3 separate regions of the Homo sapiens genome follow, and regions 2 and 3 are each reported to be linked to region 1. Evidence: microRNA targets listed by miRTarBase, many of them from high-throughput screens and not tested one by one. Region 1 holds a microRNA gene; each other region holds the end of a gene's coding sequence.
What was found. Region 1 holds the annotated microRNA hsa-miR-5011-5p (UAUAUAUACAGCCAUGCACUC, at 2,825-2,845, opposite strand). A microRNA usually pairs through its seed, bases 2 to 8, with sites in the 3' UTR of a target mRNA and lowers its output. Matches are read on the target gene's strand: a 7mer-m8 pairs with bases 2 to 8, a 7mer-A1 pairs with bases 2 to 7 and ends in A, and an 8mer does both.

Region 2: miRTarBase lists PHACTR2 as a target of hsa-miR-5011-5p. The part of its 3' UTR that is shown has no 7-base or 8-base seed match.
Region 3: miRTarBase lists ACSL4 as a target of hsa-miR-5011-5p. Seed matches in the 3' UTR shown: 7mer-m8 at 1,642-1,648, 8mer at 1,741-1,748, 7mer-m8 at 1,743-1,749, 7mer-A1 at 1,752-1,758, 8mer at 1,753-1,760 and 7mer-m8 at 1,755-1,761.

What each region holds. Positions count from the first base shown.
Region 1 is chr18:67,079,927-67,084,451 of GRCh38, reverse strand. MIR5011 (microRNA 5011) reads right to left here and starts at 2,868; the gene lies at 2,766-2,868.
Region 2 is chr6:143,823,535-143,826,534 of GRCh38, reverse strand. PHACTR2 (phosphatase and actin regulator 2) reads right to left here. Exons shown (of 13, transcript NM_001100164.2): 13 at 1-2,861. The coding sequence ends at 2,846. Among named protein-coding and RNA genes, the nearest start is that of LTV1, 18 kb to the left of the region's middle.
Region 3 is chrX:109,641,354-109,644,353 of GRCh38, reverse strand. ACSL4 (acyl-CoA synthetase long chain family member 4) reads left to right here. Exons shown (of 16, transcript NM_001318510.2): 16 at 168-3,000. The coding sequence ends at 325. Among named protein-coding and RNA genes, the nearest start is that of KCNE5, 18 kb to the right of the region's middle.

The DNA of each region.
Region 1 (4,525 bases):
CAACAACAAAATCATGCATGTAGATATTGAAAAACTGTCAACAGAGTCATTGACAGGCCCAGACTGTGAGGAATCTGTGGAATATGTAAAGCAAAGGAGGTCAGATTCACAGCATAATTAAACTGAGCTAAGGAACATTCCATTCCAAAAAAATAGTAAAGTTAATTTTCCAAAAAGAGATAATGTGAAAGAATCTATAAAATGAGGGCCAGAGCCTTAAAGAAGAACACTATGAGGCATCTAGCTGGTTATCGTATTTAAAAAAACACAAAGTTTCTGCATAGAAAAAGAAAACAATCAACAAAGTGAAGAGACAACCTATAGAAAGAAAAAAAAATTGCATACTGTTTATTTGGCAAGGAATTTGCATATCCAAAATATACAAGATACTCAATTACAAATCTATTAGATATCTCTAGATATAAATATATATGTATATAATTTATAAAATGGGCAAAAAAAATCTGAACAGACATTTCTTAAAATAAGATATAAAGATGGCCAACAGATACATGAAAAACTGCTCAACATCACTAATGATCAGGGAAGTGTATATAATAGAATGGCTATAATAAAAAGAAAAAAAGCAGCCAGGCGCAGTGCCTCAAGCCTGTAATCCCAGCACTTTGGTAGACTGAGGCTGGCGGATCACCTGAGGTCAGGAGTTCGAGACCAGCCTGGTTAACATGGTGAAACTCCGTCTCTACTGAAAATACAAAAAATTAGCCGGATGTGGTTGCACGTACCTGTAGTCCAGCTACTTGGGAGGCTGAGGCAGAAGAATTGCCTGATCCCAAGAGGCAGAGGTTGCAGTGAGCCAAGGTCACGCCATTGAACTCCAGCCTGGGCAACAGAGCGAGACCTGATACTCTGCCTCAAAAAAAAAAGTAACATGCTGGCAAGGATGTGGAGAAAAAGCAAGTCTTGTGTTTTGTACACTGTTAATGGAAATGCAAATTAGTTCAGTAATTATGGAAAATAGTATGGAAGTTCCTCAAAAAACTAAAAATAAAACCACCATATGATATAGCAATCCCATTACTAGGTATTTACCCAAAGAAAATAAATCAATTATAGAAGACGTATCTGTATCTCCATATTTATTGCAGCACTATTCGTGATAGCCAAGATAAGGAATCAAGCTAAATGTTCTTTAAAAGATGAACAGTTGAGGAAATTGTGGCATATATATACAATACAATAATATCCAGTCATGAAAAATAAAATTCTGTCATTCTGCCATTCACAGATAAACCTGGAAGGTATTATGTTAGGTGAGATAAGTCAGGCACAGAAAGATAAACACTGCATGTTCTCTCATATGTGGGAGTTAAAAAATGAGCTTATAGAAGTATAGAGTAGAATTATGGTAATCACAGTTTGATAATGTTATTAAAGACAGAGAAAGGTTGATTAATGGATACAAAGTCACAGCTAGACAGGAGGAATAAGTTCTAGTGTTCTATAGCACTATAGGGTAAGCATAGTTAATAATAATTTATAGTGTATATTAAAAAAACTAGAAGAGATTTGGAATATTCCAAACATGAAGAAATGATAAATGTTTGAGGTGATGTTTATCCTAATTACTCTGATTTGATCATTACACTTCATATACATTTATCAAAATATCACTCTGCAGATTATAAATACATACAATTAATATGTGTAAACTAAAATGCAAAGGAAGAAAAACCCAACAAAGCAATTTCTCCACACGTTACCTAATCCACAACAAATGGCTTCTGAAGTTTACCTCAAGTAAAGGCCATAAATATGACTCTTTAAGGTAGAAATCTTAGAAGTAAGAGTTACTTAGCTTAATGCCCTCTAGGTTTATCCATATGTATTTCATTGTAGTGTTAGTAGCAATAAAGTATAGAAACGACCTAATTGCTCATTGAATGGTGACTGATAGTGTTACATATACAGCCATGCACTGTGTATTGCATCAGTCAACAAAAAACCACATATATAAATGTGGTCCAATAAGATTACGATACTGTGTTTTTAGTGTAATTTTTCTTTGTTTTGGTATGTTTAGATGTACGGATGCTATTGTGTTACAATTGCCTATAGCATTCAGTATAATAATAAGCTATACAGAGTTGTAGCCTAGGAGATACAGTCTATGTCATATTGTCTAAGTGTGTAGTACGTTACACTGCTGTGGGACAGGCAAGGCCCCAAACTGGGGCTTAGCCAGGGAGGATTTCTTGCTTAACCCCGGAAAAAATTCAAGGATGAGCTAGGAGTCTTAGCAATCGTTTATTGAATGGTACTGCTCCTTGCAGAGCAGGGCTAAATCATAGGCAGTGCAATCAGAGTCAGCAACATATGGTCTCTTGGCAACGGTATTTATACTCAGCGAGACCCACATTCAATTGCATGCAAATTGAGGGGTGAGCCAATGCAAATTGAGGGGCAGGTTGTTTAGAACTTTCTAAGGCAGGTCAAATGCATGCAAATTGAGGGGTGAGCCAATGCAAATTGAGGGGCAGGTTGTTTAGAACTTTCTAAGGCAGGGGCAGTAACTTTTAGGTTGTTGCCATGGAAAGAGGTGGTAACTTCTGGGTTGTGTTGCCAGGCTGCTCATATTGCTCATTAGCATAAGACACTACCACCAGCACCATGACAATTAAATTGCAATGAGTAGTTAGAGATTGCTTTTGTTGACATCTGCCACTTCCTATCAGTTTCTTCACTTCATGCTCTCTGGCCAGATCCTGTTTTGGTTAGCAGGGTTGTGACCAAAAAAAAGTCCTGCTGAAAGATGAATGGATAGTGTTATATATACAGCCATGCACTGTGTACCCAAACTACAGAGTGCATGGCTGTATATATAACAGCATCCACTCAATACCATCTAGGTTTGGATAAGGACACTCCATGATGTTCAAACAATGATAAAATTGCCTTAAGGTACATTTCCCTGTTAAGCAATGCATGACTGTGTGTGTGTATATATGTATATGACCATGAAATATTATTCAGCCTTAAAATAGAAGGGGATTCTGCCATATGAGGCAACATGAAAGAAATAAGTTCTATTGTTGGGGGTGAATAGCCATGAGAGTGGAGAAGGCCATCAGTTAATCCATGGTTTGTGGCATTGGCCAAGCATGACAAGCAGTGAAACCATATTCAAATATGGAATCAACTTTTCTGACGATGACAACAAACAACTGTTGGCTTTACTATACAAGTCAGAGGCAATTGTAAGGCTCTTTGTTGTTTAATGCCCCACAGGTAAAACTTTTCTGTCCAGGGAATATTCTAGAGCAATACTGTGCAAGAGACCATTGTGTGATAACACGTGTTCTACCCTTGCATAGTCCAATATAGTAGCCTGTAGCCACATGTGCCTTTGAGTATTTCAAATACAGCTAACACAATGGAGGGACTGACTTTTTAATTATTTTAATGTTTAGTTAATTAAACATTAAAATTAACTTTAAATAGCCAAGTGTAGCTCCAAGAAACATCTGGAGCTACCAGGAACTGGAAGAGATAAGAAAGAATTGTCTCCTAGAATCCTGGATTAAATGCAATCCTGCCGACACCCGAGTTTGAACTGGCTTCTAGAACTGGGGGAGAATACATTTCTGTTCTTTTAGCCATTTGTTTTATGCTAATCTGTTATGGCAGCCTGAGGAAACTAAAACAGATGGCTTCGGGGAGAAATTTGAAACAGAAGCAAGAAGTAAAAACAGTAAGAAACAAACAAGTATGTATTCATCACAGAGGTACAGAAATTAACCATCAAATATCCCAGGCCCTAGGGGAGGAAGTGCCACGGTGGCAGCAGCGCTATCTCATCAGACTGTTCCTGTGGGGGGATTTTACTGCCATTCTGGAACCTGGTTTCCATGGGGCTGCCCTGTTCTGAGCCTGTTTCTTTAGCCTTCCAATAATTATATGATTTATCCAATATAATCTATTACCTGGTTTAGGTCAATTGGAATGGATTTCAGTCATCTACAACCAAGAACACTGACAGGTATACTAACACCTGTCAGATAGTATTGTGAATTGTGGGGAAAGTGTTCCTAAACATGACAAAACACAAGAAAGCATTAAAAAATGGTGACAGATATGAGTATTTATGAGTTAGTTAATAAACATATATGACAATTTATATGGAAAACAAAGTATGTGATGCATGATGGATTAGGAAAACATACAATATATGTAACGAAATGATATACAATGTCAATATTTATTTTTAAGAAGCAATACTAAATTACAAAATAAAATATATACAATTCTATAGGAATAGAATGCAAATTACCAATACATACATGAAAATTAGAAAACTTTTGCAATTAGAAAAATATAAATCAAAACAATAGTGTTATACTACTTTTTTCTGAAATTAAATTGCAAAATTAATATATCCAAAGATACTCAACATGATCCATATTAGACATGGATGTGTGAAGAAGGCACTCCAATCTAGGTTTTTAAGGATATAAATTTGTAAAGCCGTGTCTCAAGAATGTGTGACAATAATTCATGAGTGGCA
Region 2 (3,000 bases), not on the chromosome of region 1:
GATCTTCCTGGAGATGGGTTTGTTTTCTTCCTTAATCATATCTTGGGAACTCAGGAAAACCCACTTACTTCCTCGATGTCAGCCTAATGTCAAACTTTAAATAGCCAAAAACCTGGAATTGTGTTACAACAAAAGAAATCCAATTCCCACACACTTTTATTTTTCCTATACAGCATATGCTTACTGGTTGGATTGCTGAAACGCTGGTGGTGGACAGAGGTGCCTATGCACGGAGGGTGGGCCAGACCTCTGCATCCCTTTAGGGCCCCCAGGTAGGAGACCTCTGGCTGGGTGGCCGGTGGGGATATGTCTCATCTCTGCTCTACTAAAATAGAACCATATTCTGCAAAATACAGCTTAGCTCATAATCCTTTAATTCTTTCCACAGCTTTTTACTCAAGCCATCATTCTAATAAAATAATTGGTGATTCCGATTACCTAAACAGTAGACTAGCAGTGGCTAATTTTTTTTTTTTTTTACTTTTAAACTTGTCTCTAACTTAGAAAATTTTTTCTAAATGTATCGATTAGTGTAAAGAAAAAGTATGAGTAGTTAATAAATCTGACCTATTATACAAGAAATGCAATTTTGAAATACCAGATTTTCATTTTTTGTACTAAGTGTATCTCATTGTAGGCAATAAAAAATTGCATCACAGGCATCAAAAGTGGGAAAAAATTGTTCCTTTTATCAACCAAATAGAAACTTTCAATAACATACTTTGAGTGATAAAATGGTGATGTCTTACATTTACCATTATAGAGAGGTCTTGTGGTTAGAAATTTAAAAAGTGTTTAAAGATGATTAAGCATAGACAATTAAAAGAAACATTATATCTCTTGGTATTTTTCTCAAGACACTAAAATAATAAAATAAAAATATAATTAAGGAAAAGCATGACTTTGGGAAAAAAAAAATCACAAGTTAATTTTTATGGCTGGATTGAAACACTGTAAAATAGACAAAACCTCAGCCAGAGACAGACACCTGGGCATGCAGAAAAATTTTTTCAAAGCAAAAAATTTGTCTTATCCTATTAGTGAAATGACAACAGACTCTAGGTGTGTTTTATTAATGCACAGAGTCTAACAAGAGGTGCAGTAATGCTGGTTACTTTTCCTAATTCTAACATGGTCCTGGCTTTTTATAGTAGGCCAACTGGCATTAACATTTTTTATTTTTAAATAAAATGATCCGATTTCAAGTGGTTCTTTAAAATACCAATGAATGGCAGGATCTACATTTATTCACCGGGTTAAATGCTTACTTTTCGGTTGAAATAGAAAATGACAGTCTTGAACCAGAAACATCTTAGAAAATTGTAGTCCAAACTCTGAGAATAAAATAAACTCTATTTGGGTCTTGTTTTGTTATTCATTTCATGTGTTTTTAATTAAAGGGGCACAAAGCACTTGTGAAGAACAATGAAATGCAAGGTGGTATTTACATATGGTCATATGTATTTGGGAGCAGAAGTCATAGTGTGCCTGTGACTCCATGGAAAATAGCAACACAATAATAGAGAGTTTCTTAATGTAAACAATACAGACTGTAGGCTCATAGGGAAAACTTCCACTACTTTAACCTCACTGATTCTTTTGCATTGACAGTAAATACTGTACTGTATCTATGGATGCCATCTGCAGATTCTTAAAATACAAGATGAGGATTTCCTCACACACAACTTAGTGGGAACTTTCCATGTTCTGTTAAGCCTTTGGGTGTTTTTTTGATCTGTGTCCTTTTTTTTTTTTTAAATAGCAGCAATCCAACTTTAAAAAAATGCAGCACTAAAAAAATAACTAGTCCTTATTCCCATGCAGGACTAACTGCAGGCAGCACATTTGTATCTTGCTTAAGTTTTGACTTTGGATTCAAGTTTTTATTACAGGTGTCATGATTGCCAATACTGTCTTCTCTAGGTGAAGTATGGTTGCTTTGACTTTGGATCTAATCAAGATAGGGAAAGATCAAAAGATTTATTTCTGAAGCTTGCTACAGTTTTCTAGGGTCACATTACATCTGACTTTATTCCCAGTCCTCTTATCCTGTGAAGGCTGGTACACTAGGAAAGGGATATTTAAAAATGTCAAGTGTGCATAGCTAATGCTACTTAAAAGCATGCAACAAAATTTGGGTAAGCATGCTTGTTAAGAGTCAGTAGAAGCTCTTGCATTTAAGAAAAAGATGCATGAAAACATTCAGACTTATTTCTGGCAACTGGATTCACTGGCACAACATAAAATAATGGTACTATACTGTACCAACATAATGGTGAAACAAGAGTATTCTCCGATCAAGTCTTTGAGGAATCCACATCAGGAGGTTAAATTCCTAAATCCCTTAATAAGTTCTCAGCTACCGAATAACTACTTCAAAAATACATTTATGCTTCAATTTTCTCTTTTCTTCATTAACATAATGAAATATTTCTCTTTCTTTCTGATTTCCAACTCCCACCCCTTTTCAGTGCCCAGCAATTTTAATCTATATTTTTCTTTCACCCGCATTATAAAATTTGGCTTTCTGGTAACAGGGAGCCAGTGATTGTCTTCTGCTCATCTTCTTTGATTAAAGCTTCTGATGAAGAATATCCACGGTGTCTCTTACCATCGCTGTGCATTCTGGGCAGCAAGAGTCACTGCATCCTTCCTTTTGCTTGTTGGAGCCATCTGGGCCACACAGGTGAGGAGCACTTCCCAGCCAAGCTGAGTCACACACTTCCTTCACCACAAGTTAAACGGAAACACACACATTCAAATCCCAGTGCAATATCAGGTTTTCAGGAAGCAGGGCTTCCCCCAAAGATGATCAGTCTCTGTTTCCAAATAGTCTCACTCTTCGTTATGGACGATGAAACCTGGAGTAAGAAATAGAAACTATAAGCCTGTGGCCTAGGAGCACATTCTGCATGCAGTGAGCTGAATAAGGCGTGGTCATGTTTACAATGAAAAGGTACCCCAGATATCCCCCAACTGAATTACTGTTTACAAATTTCT
Region 3 (3,000 bases), not on the chromosome of region 1:
AATAAGTTTGTGGTGATTGGTGATTCAACACCCGAATCATCTAGGTAAATCCTGAAAAACTCATATTTTATTAATTGCTTCTCCTTCCCCTTCTTTCCCCGTCCCCACTCCTTTCTCGTCTCTTTCCCCCCCTCTCCTTTTCTCCCATCTTTCACTTCTAATTTCAGTGAAATTGGAGCGATTTGAAATTCCAATCAAGGTTCGATTAAGCCCAGAGCCATGGACCCCTGAAACTGGTTTGGTAACTGATGCTTTCAAACTGAAAAGGAAGGAGCTGAGGAACCATTACCTCAAAGACATTGAACGAATGTATGGGGGCAAATAAAATGTTGTTGTCTTATTGACAGTTGTGCAGGAGGTAGCCTGGTGGTTTTCAACCTCTAGAATTTTAAGCCTTTGTTGAACTGTTAGAATGTAAGGTATATCATTCTAAAGATAGAGTAAAAAGAAAACAAAACCAAAAGTTATTAAAATTGTTGTCCGGTTTACTTTAACTTAGTTTTGCATAGTTCTAGTGCAGCTGAAATTGAAAAGTTATTTCCCTTTAGCTGTGTTATTATAGAGCAGAAATTCTGTTTTTAAAAATTAGCCTAAGATATACTTGTTTTTGTAAAGAAAAATATTTAATGTTGAACAAAATAAATTGGAGTTGGAGTAGAATGTAGTTTGAGGAAATTTGCAGCTTCCAATGCCTCTTGTCTTCCTATTTCAGAAGTTTAAATATTAAGCATGACAGAAAATATGTATTAACACTACTCAAAGCAAAAGTGCTGCAGGGCTTTAAAATTCTCTTCCAACCATTTATCTTGAAGGAAAAATTCAATAGTAATATAATACACAAAATCAAATAATACCTTAGAAGGTATTAAGATTATAATTGTTGCATAGGTTAGATATAGAGTCATTGTAATGTTGTGAATAATTACAGTGCCTAAAATAAGAATAGAACAACATATACAACACCAAAAAATATCTAGTAATATATTTAAAGGGAAATTGAGCTGCTTTTTTTGAAACTTTGAGATCTAAAAATAACTGTAATTATTTGAATGACTAAGAGGAAAGTACATTTTTTGAAATGCTGAAAATTGCCTTTCTGTGTTTATTCAAACTGAAAAGCTGAGACCAAGAGCAAGGAAGGTAAAAAGTTAACAGGCAAACATTTTCTCTTAGAAAAGGTGATAAAATCATAAGTATTTGGAATTAGAACCCTTGCACAGCACTGAACCTGGGAAAGAGATTTAAACTCTGAATTTATCTTTGATAACAGGGATTGATTTTAAAATGTACATGTATTAAATTACATTTGTAATTTAAGGTCTGTTTGCTGTTGCTGATTTTATTCTTGATCAGTAGTTTGCATTTCAGAAAGCCTTTCATTTTGCTTTAATTTTAGCAAAGCGGGTTATAATGAATGACTTCCCCAATATCTTGCTTGAACTTACAGGTGATTAACTTGGATGAGTTTTGGGAAGTTAAAGGGAAGAAAACACTGTTATCATTTTTTCCTGTTTGGGAAGAGCTTAGAAACTGGAAATACTAGATTTGGGAGAAGGGCAGAGTTACTTGATAAGGGACTGATGTTTGTGCAGTAACTTGGGAGTGTGGTTTCTTTTTGAATCTTTAATTAAAACCTGGGATTATATATCCCTGATAAATATTCACACTTGAACCATAGTTACTGTAAAATGCAAAAAATCTTAATACTGTTATTCTTTGCACTTTTTCTTAATCATTTTTTATATATATGCATATATATATGTGTGTGTGTGTGTTGCTTATGTTGTTTTGTACAGATGTGGGCCACCATTGCAACAAAATACATTCTTTTTGCTCTAAAATATTTATGAAGAAAATACTTAAATGTTATGTATATGGTGGTAATAAGGGAAAAATCAAGTATTATAAACAAGAATGAAGGTTTTTGTAAAGATTTCTGTTCAGCGTTTTGCAAGGTAAAATTTTAGGCAAGTTTTCCCTGAAGTTATGTGTATGTGAGTATTCTCATTCTTCCCAACTTGCCTTTGAAGAGTGAAATACCATTATTATCAAGTAGACTACTGTTCAGCTTTTATTCCTGCCCTGCTGTTTATCCCTTAAGAATGAGTTTCTTAGACTTTTCCAATATGTGATTTTTTTTCCCATTTAGAATGGTGATTTTAAATGTGTGAGTGCATGTACTATCTTATCTCAGATATTTGCACCCCCAATCTGCCCCCAACTCCCAAAAGCTAGAACACTGCCAACTGATCTGTTATAGGTCCTTTAGAAACACATAATTAACACTTAAGGTTGGGTGCTGCTAATTCTTTGCAAAAATCCAAATATTGTTAAGGGACCAGGGAGATGCCACTACCCCTTGATTTTCCATCTAAAAATATACATGTTTATGTAAACAAATCTTTCCATATCCATAGTGACTTTTCAAGTATTTAAGCCTAAAGATTTTGATCTCACATTTTTATACCTGTTTAAATTGCTCACAGTTATTACATACACATCAGCCATCAACTAAAGTTGTACTTTAAAAATTTACTACAATATGTACATTTCTAAGTCAAACACTTGTGACTTTTGCTTTAATTCCATGAATGTTCCTGCCTCCTTGATATTTGTATTTATTCTTTTTTTCTCTAGAGTAGAGGTATAATTGTGTGATATTTCAGAAATACAGATAAATGATTCAAAAAGTCACAGTTAAGGAGAATCATGTTTCTTTGATCATGAATAACTGATTAGTAAGTCTTGCCTATATTTTCCTGATAGCATATGACAAATGTTTCTAAGGTAACAAGATGAGAACAGATAAAGATTGTGTGGTGTTTTGGATTTGGAGAGAAATATTTTAATTTTTAAATGCAGTTACAAATTATAATGTATTCATATTTGTACTTTCTGTTAAAATGCATGATTGCAGAATTGTTTAGATTTTGTGTTTATTCTTGATGAAAAGCTTTGTTTGTTCTTGTTTTTAAGTTTGCACTCAAATCTTAAGAAATA